Linked DNA regions of Homo sapiens: region 2 is linked to region 1. A link means that fine-mapping ties the variant in region 1 to the expression of a gene that starts in the linked region. Tissue or cell type: whole blood. Region 1 holds a variant in brackets; the other region holds the start of a gene. All regions are shown on one strand. Distances are between the middles of the regions.

The links. PIP is the estimated chance that this variant, and not a neighbour inherited with it, causes the effect.
Region 2: CFD starts here. The variant in region 1 is the best candidate, but not a certain one, in a credible set for the expression of CFD in whole blood (INTERVAL, PIP 0.73).

What each region holds. Positions count from the first base shown.
Region 1 is chr19:896,528-900,645 of GRCh38, reverse strand. It overlaps R3HDM4 (R3H domain containing 4), which reads left to right. Exons shown (of 8, transcript NM_138774.4): 5 at 500-585; 6 at 960-1,045; 7 at 1,151-1,206; 8 at 3,106-4,118. The coding sequence ends at 3,209. Among named protein-coding and RNA genes, the nearest start is that of RNU6-9, 5.1 kb to the right of the region's middle. RefSeq lists a silencer at 1,670-1,870. The variant C/T (reference allele first, on the strand shown) is at 2,254.
Region 2 is chr19:857,679-861,781 of GRCh38, reverse strand. CFD (complement factor D) reads right to left here and starts at 2,118. Exons shown (of 5, transcript NM_001928.4): 1 at 2,038-2,118; 2 at 1,009-1,165; 3 at 777-921; 4 at 1-83. The coding sequence starts at 2,092.

The DNA of each region.
Region 1 (4,118 bases):
GTGGGGCCGCGATGGGGGGCAGGATATGGATGGGGTGTGGGCGGGACCTGGAGTGGGTTGGACCTAGTGTGTGGGTGAGGCCAGGGTATGGATGGGGACAGGGCAATGGGGTGTGTGGGGCCAGGATGGGGTAGGTAGGATATGGATGGGGCGGGACATGGAGTGGATGTGGCCAGCATGTGGGGGCAGGATCTGGATGGCAGTGGGTAGGGGTGGGGCTAGCTGGCTTGTGTGGGCCTGGAGTGGGTGGGGCCTCATGTCTAGCTGGGGTGAACATACAGGTGAGGGTAGGGTCAGCTGGATGGGTTGGGGTCAGGGCCTCGTGGGGGTAGGGTCTGCTGGCTGGATGGGGCCACAGTATCGTTGAAGGTGTGGTTTGGTGGGCAGGAGAGGCCAAGGCACAGATGGGCGTGGTCTTCCCTGGGTGGGCGTGGTCTGGCAGGTGGGCAGGGCCAGGACGAGCACCCCAAGACTGCCCCTTGTTCCCCCACTCCTGCAGAGGACCCCGCCTATACACCCCGCGAGTGCTTCCAGCGCATCAGCCGGCGTCTGCGAGCCGTCCTCAAGCGCAGCCGCATCCCCATGGTGAGTGGGGGATTGCCGGGCCTCCCTTTTCTACCTGCCTGGTCTTTTTTGAAGGCCCGTTTCCCAGGCACAGGTTCTCACCCGGTGCAGGTCGTGTCAGGGGAAACAGGGCAGGATACAGACAGCGGCACCAGGGCCCTGAGTAGGAGGGCGGGGGCAACGAAGGCGGGCACTGCAGGGTGTGTAGGAGTTTCCTCCACGGAAGGCACAGGCAGGAGGTGGCATGGTGGCCTCAGAGACACTTAAGCAGCCTCACGTGGTGGGTCAGAGGTCATGTTTGAGCCCAGCGCTGTGGGCTCCTGGGGGCCCTGGACCTCCCTGGCCCCCCACCCACAGGTCCCGCAGTTCCCTGACCACCGGGCCGCTCTCCCCAGGAAACGCTGGAGACCTGGGAGGAGCGGCTGCTTCGGTTCTTCTCCGTGTCCCCCCAGGCCGTGTACACAGCAATGCTAGACAACAGGTAAGGGGGGGCGGCCAGGCGAGCGGACCCTCCGAGGCTGCGGCCAGGTGGGCGGACACCCCACGCTGCAGCCCCTGCACGGCGCTCACTGCCCGTTCCCCACAGCTTCGAGAGGCTTCTGCTGCACGCTGTCTGCCAGTACATGGACCTCATCTCGGCCAGTAAGTGCCGGTGGCCCCCAAGACCCCAAGTTGGCCAGCTCAACCTGGGAAAGTGGCCAGGGTCCCAGGGGCCTGGTTCCTCAGAGTGGGGCTTGGTGGGGAGGTGGGGAAGGGGGCTGGAGTGGGGACGCTACGAACTCAGGGGTGGCAGTGGGACCCTGCCTTGAATTCACCAGAAGCTCCCTGCATATGCGGCCCCACGCAGGGTGACCGCAGACACAACCAGGCTGCTGGACACAGACACTCCTCCATCTGCATCTTCGGGGCCCGGGGTGGGGGTGATGAAGCCTGGATTTGAGGGACCTCCCAGAGCCAGAGATAAGATGGGGGGACGCAGTGTCTGGAAGGTTTGCATTTAACTCTAAGGCCTCCCACATACCACACGTGGGACCTCAGGCGAGACCCCCTACTGGCCCCTGCGCTCCACTTTTCCAACGGGGCGCAGTCTCAGAACTCACCCCCGTAGTGAACGTCTGTGCAGGCGCCGCCGGCCCCAGGCACCCCATCTGGTCCTGAGCCTCTCACACCTGTCTCTGCCGCCCCGCCTGGAGTTGCCGAGGTGACAGTTTCCATGGCAACCGGACGATGCCTCCCTCTGTTCCCTCTGTGGGAGACGCAGCCCCCATGCCTGCCTCTGCTCAGAACATCCGGCCTTGGCTGGGGGTGCGGGGCTTGGAGCTTGGTGGGTGTGGAGCTGTGGTCCTGACACGGAAGAGGAGGGGTCCCAGCAAGATGGGGAGTAGAGGACGGGGGGGTCCCAGGCAGAGGGGACTGCTGAGGCGCGGAGCTCACATGGGACGTGGCTCTTTTTTTTTGTTTTGGTTGGTTAGGTTTGGTTTTTTTGAGACAGTCTCATTCTGCCACCCAGGCTGGAGTGCAGTGGCGTAATCTTTACTCACTGCAACCTCCACCTCCGGGTTCAAGCGATTCTCCTGCCTCAGCCTCCCGAGTAGCTGGGATCCCAGGTGCCGGCCAGCACGCCCGGCTAATTTTGTATTTTTAGTAGAGACGGGTTTCTTTTTTTTTTTTTTTTTTGAGACCAAGTCT[C/T]GCTCTGTCACCCATGCTGGAGTGCAGTGGCGCGATCTCAGCTCACTGCAAGCTCCACCTCCCGGGTTCACGCCATTCTCCTGCCTCAGCCTCCCGAGTAGCTGGGACTACAGGTGCCCGCCACCACGCCCTGCTAATTTTTTGTATATATATATATATATATTTTTTTTTTTAGTAGAGACAGGGTTTCACTGTGTTAGCCAGGATGGTCTCAACCTGACCTCGTGATCCGCTTGCCTCAGCCTCCCAAAGTGCTGGCATTACAGGCTTAAGCCACCGCGCCCAGCCCTAGAGACAGGGTTTCACCATGTTGGTCAGGCTGGTCTCGACCTCCTGACCTCAGATGATCCTCCTGCCTTGGCCTCCCAGAGTGCTGGGATTACAGGCATGAGCCACTGCGCCTGGCCAGGTCATTCATTTTTCTGCAGTGAGGGGGAGATGGGGAAGGGGAGGCCGGTGGGAGCTGGACCACTCAGGACCTGGGTGCCTCAGAGCCACCTCTGCAGGGCAGGGAGCCTGAGGGGAGGCCGGACACTCCGCCAGGCAGGCGTGTGAGTGGCCATGCGGCCTCAGGCCCAGTGCGTTTCAGGGTCCCCATCCGCACAGTGGAATGAGTGCCAGCGGGGAGTGAGATGGGCCCGAGGAGAGTGCTCCTGTAGGGAGCCTTAGGTATTCTTGTGAGCCAGGCTCCCGGACCTGCGGGCTTAGGGCCAGCCAGGCCGCAGTGACCAGCACACACCAGCTGGCGGTGACCTCCCTGGGAAGAAGCGAGGGTGGTGCAGGTCCGAGGCACCTCTACCTGCCGCGGCTCCCAAATTCCTCCCGTTCTTGCCCCGCTGGTCCCGTCTGCAGGTGCTGACCTGGAGGGGAAGCGGCAGATGAAGGTCAGTAATCGGCACCTGGATTTCCTGCCGCCGGGGCTGCTCCTGTCCGCCTACCTGGAGCAGCACAGCTGATGGCGGCCCCGCGGAGACCCCGCTGCCACCTCGCCCAGCCATCAAGCCCTCCGATACCTTCGGCTAAAATATCTTTCATATTTTTAGAATTTGTCCTCGGAAACCTTTTTCGCTTGGGGTGGTCTCTCTCACTCTGCCCCCTCCTCACGCAGCTCTTGGCAGTCAACAGACGCTGGCGGCTGGGGCTGCCCATGCCATCCCAGCTCCAAGCTTCCCACTCCGGGACTTGTGTTTGGGTGGGGAGACCTGACCTGGGCATGTTCCTGTTTCTTCATCGTTGAGCTTTTCTGGCCCGGTCTGAAGCTCAAGTGAGGAGGGGGAGGCTGGGTTTTTATCACTTTTAATGAATTTGGTGTGATTTGTTGTAGATTTTTAAATTTCCCTTTTGGAGAGAAAAACCAAAAAAACTCGCCCCACTGGTAAAACATGGGTCTTGGTCCCAGCCCCTGCTCAGCCCCTCCCAGTTTTTAGCTTGAATGAGGGTGGGGTCTCTGGGACCCTGCCCCTCATGCCAGAAGCATCTTGTGTTGTATATGTGTGCGCGCGTGTGCCCTGAGACCCAGGACAGAAGCCACGGTCCTAAGAGCCGGTTTTATCCTCGTCATTCTGCGTGTCCTCCCCCACGCCACCTGTGTCGGGGCTCAGGGTCTCCTGCTTTATATGAGCCCCCTTCCTTTCCTCCCCTCCTTTATGCTGGGGGTCCAGGACTTCCAGCCAGAAGCCTCTGCCCTTGCACTACCTTGTCTGTCACCCCATCCCGTGTCCCCTCGTCCCCCAGCCTGACTCCTGCCTGATAGCTCCTGTGTCCCCATGCTGGTCCTCCTGGCCCAGGCTGCAGGAGCCAGGCTGGGGGGCCTCCGCACCCCCTTGCTGCGTGTGGGTAATTGTGTTTTGGGGGAAAGTGGGGAA
Region 2 (4,103 bases), 39 kb after region 1:
AGAGTTCCCGGTGCCACGTCGCGGTCCACGCGCTGCCAGGGCAGGGGGCGCACAGCAGGGCCCAGTGTGGCCTTCTCCGACAGCTGAGGGTGGAGGCGGACGTCAGGGTTGGGGTGCGGGGGTGCGAGGCTGGGGAGAATGCCGCTAGGCTCGGGGAGACGGGACGGGGGAGGTGGGCATCAGGGCAGGGGCGTGGGTCTCAGTGCAGCAGGAGAGATTTAGGCTAGACCCTGGGTGGGGGTGCAGGTGGGGATGGGGTGGGTGCGAGGCTCACCAGTGCAGCTGCAAAGGTCGAGGCTGGAACCGGGATGGGGATGCAGGGGGAGCGGGGGGTGGGGGGCTCCCAGTGCAGCCGCAGAGGTCGAGGCTAGACCCGGGGTGAGGGTGCGGGGGTTGTAGGGCGGGGTCCCCATGCAGCAGGAGAGGTCGAGGCTGGACCCGGGGTGAGGGTGCAGGGGGTGGGGGGGCTCCGAGCGCAGCAAGAGAGGTCGAGGCTAGACCCGGGGTGAGGGTGTGGGGGTTGTGGGGCGGGGTCCCCATGCAGCAGGAGAGTTCGAGGCTGGACCCGGGGTGAGGGTGCAGAGGGTGGGGGGGCTCCGAGCGCAGCAAGAGAGGTCGAGGCTAGACCCGGGGTGAGGGTGTGGGGGTTGTGGGGCGGGGTCCCCATGCAGCAGGAGAGGTCGAGGCTGGACCCGGGGCGCGGTGTAGGCGGGGTGGAGTGAGGGTGGGCCGGGGATCCCAGCGCCGCAGGAGGGACTGCGCTACACGGGGCCGACCTGTAGCAGCAGGAGGTCGTGGTCGATGGTGTCGGGCTGGCTGTCCGGGTGGGGCACTGCGCGGAGCACGTCGTACAGGCGCTTGGAGGGCTCCGGCTGCGACAGGGAGTGCGCGCCCAGGAGAACCTGCACCTTCCCGTCGGCCCTGGGGACCGGACGGAGTCCGCGGTCGGTGCCAGCCGACTCCCCCCACCGCACCCGGGCTCTTCCCCCGCGCGGCGCGGGCACTCACGCGTCCTCCAGGCAGTGCGCCGCGCTCAGCACCCACTGCTCCGCCACCAGGACGCCGCCGCACAGGTGCGCGCCGTTCAGCTGCACCGACGCCATGTAGGGCCGCGCGTGCGCCTCGGCCTCTCTGCCGCCCAGGATCCGACCACGGGGCGGCGCCGCTGTGGGTGGGCGGGCGCGTGAGGGCCGCGGGGTGGACTCCTCCCCCGGGCGAGGCTGCCTGACGGGATCCCAGCTCTCACCCCCCAGGCCGCTCCCCGCAAGAATCCCATCTCTGGGCGCGGTGGCTCACGCCTGTAATCCCAGCACTTTGTGAAGCCGCGCGGGGGCGGGGGGGGAGGGGGGGGTGCAGATCATGAGGTCAGGAGTTCAAGACCAGCCTGGCCAATATGGTGAAACCCCGTCTCTACTTTAAAAAAAAATACAAAATTTAGTCGGCGTGGCCTATAATCTCAGCTATTCGGAAGGCTGAGGCAGGAGAATCGCTTGAACCCGGGAGTCGGAGTTTGCAGTGAGCCGAGATCGCACCACTGCACTCCAGCCTGGACGACAGAGCGAGACTCCCTATCAAAAAAAAAAAGAAAGAAAAAAAAGAATCCCGTTTCCGTCTTGGGGCCCCTCAGCGTTGCAAACTCAGATACCCTCGGGCGGGAATGCCCCAGAGTACAGAACCCACAGTGGGCTGGGGACCGGGGGCAGATCCCAGCGCCCTACCCTGGGCGCAGTGCCTTCCAGTTGGACATAAGAGAAATGGGGCTGACCCAGCCAGTGCCTGGGCCAGCCCAGTCAGCCACGCAGATGAAGTTTTCCACGCAGACGTTCAGACTCTGTCTGCAAGAAAAGCTGACTCCAGAAAGTTCCGATTTCCAATCTGAATTTTCTAGAATTTTTCAGCGTTCAGAGCCTTCCATTAGTGAGGAGAGACACCCCCTTCCTGCCCACCTGGAGGGGCTGGAGGACCGTCCGTGTGACGGAAGGGAGCACCACGCCCCTACACAGCCCTGTCCCTCACCCCAGGCCCAGGCCTCCTCACCGCAGGCGGCCGCTCCTAGGAGGACCAGAACTGCCAGGCGCTCCCAGCTGTGCATGGTGAAGCCGCTGTGGCTGAGACACTGACCCAGGCAGGGCCCTGGGGGTGCTTTTATGAGGGTGGAGGGGGCGGGCCGCTCCCCGGGTGGGCAGCGGCCCAGCTGGGGAAAGGGGAACTCGCCCGCCCAGCCTCCGCCCTCCCCGGGACTGGGTTACCTCCTGCCAGACTCACACCAGAGTCGACAAGTCGCTGGGAGACCCTCGGGCCTCTGTGAGCCTGACAGCCTGCTGGCCCTGGTGGGGGGCAGTCCCTCAGATGGGCAGGAGGCAGAGAGGGGGGCTGCACCCACCCCGGCCCCAACTTCACCACACCCAGAGTCCCCCAGGGTGTTTCACAATCCTAGCTGGAGGCCACAGCGTGTAAACAACCCACTTTCTTGTCCTGCTACCCTCCCTTCTTTTCCTCCTCTATATTAGAGAGAAGGTCTGTTGGGGGTAGGAAGGTCACTTGACACCTTTGTCTCTGTCCCTGTGGCCTCTGGGGCTTGACACCCTGACGAATAGAAAGTTGGAAAGGCCAAGGCAGAGGCAGCTGGGAAGACTGGCTACAAGGGACAGGAAAACCCAGACAAACTGGGTGGAGCCTGAATCATGAAAGTTATATGGAAAGTTCAGGGATGTCCGCCTTCAGGTGTGGCTTGATCCAGGTGCCTGAACAATGTCCAGTGTCTGCTTCTGGCTTCTCCTTTCTTCTCTGATGGCTTCTTTCCTCACCAGCCTCCCCTGGTGTGTTTCCAGGGACCCCACACTCAACCCAGTGGCTCAGTGGGCCCCTCCTAAAATTCTTCCTCACTCCAGCCAAGTCTCAAGGGTGCCTTGGGTTGGTGGAGCCTGGATCACACGCCCCCTCCCAAACTGTTCACTGAGGGCAGGTTCTGATGAACAGAGTCAGGGCTGGCCGGGCACAGTGGCTCCCACCTACCATCCCGGCACATTGAGAGACCCAGATAGGAGCATCTCTTGAGCCCAGGAATTCAAGGCCAGCTTGGGGAAGACGGCGAGACCCCATCTCTACAAAAAAATTAAAATAAAATACTTCTCAGAATCTGGGCCATAGGGCCTTTTGTGAGGTGGGGATTTGTGTGTGTTGTTTTTGTTTTATTACAGACAGGGTCTTGCTCTTTCATCCAGGCTCGAGTGCAGCGGTGCAATCATAGCTCACTGCAGCCTCCTCGACCTCCGGGGCTCAAGTGATCCTCCCACCTCAGCCTCCAGAAGTGCTGGGACTGCAGGCCTGCTCATGGTGTAGCTCCATTTTTCACATCTGCCCCACAGGGGCCAGCGGGATTCACGTTGCATTAATCCATGGTGCGGGGACCAGAAGGATGGGGATACCTTGTGGGGAGGACCTCAGACATTGTCCCCAGGGGGAGCAGCACACGAGGTTCCCCCGGCTTTTCTCTTCACCATGGATCATTTCTTTCTTTTCTTTCCTTTTTTTTTTTTTTTTTGAGACGGAGTCTCGCTCTGTCGCCCAGGCTGGAGTGCAGTGGCGCGATCTCAGCTCACTGCAAGCTCCGCCTCCCGGGTTCACACCATTCTCCTGCCTCAGCCTCCGGAGTAGCTGGGACTACAGGCGTCCGCCACCACGCCCGGATAATTTTTTGTATTTTTAGTAGAGATGGGTTTCACCGTGTTAGCCAGGATGGTCTCGATCTCCCGACCTCGTGATCCGCCTGCCTCGGCCTCCCAAAGTGCTGAGATTACAGGTGTGAGCCACCACGCCTAGCCTCATTTCCTTCCTTCCTTTCTCTGTTTTTCTCTTTCTTTCCCTTTCTTTTTCTTTCTTTCTTTCTCTTTCCTTCTTTTTTTCTTTCTTTCTTGCTTTTTTTTTTTTTTTGCGACAGAGTCTTGCTCTGTCGTCCAGGCTGGAGTGCAGTGGCACAATCTCGGCTCACTGCGACCTCCACCTCCCGGGTTCAAGCGATTCTACTGCCTCAGCTTCCCGAGTAGCTGGGATTACACGCATGAGCAACCACACTGGGCTAACTTTTTGTATTTTTAGTAGAG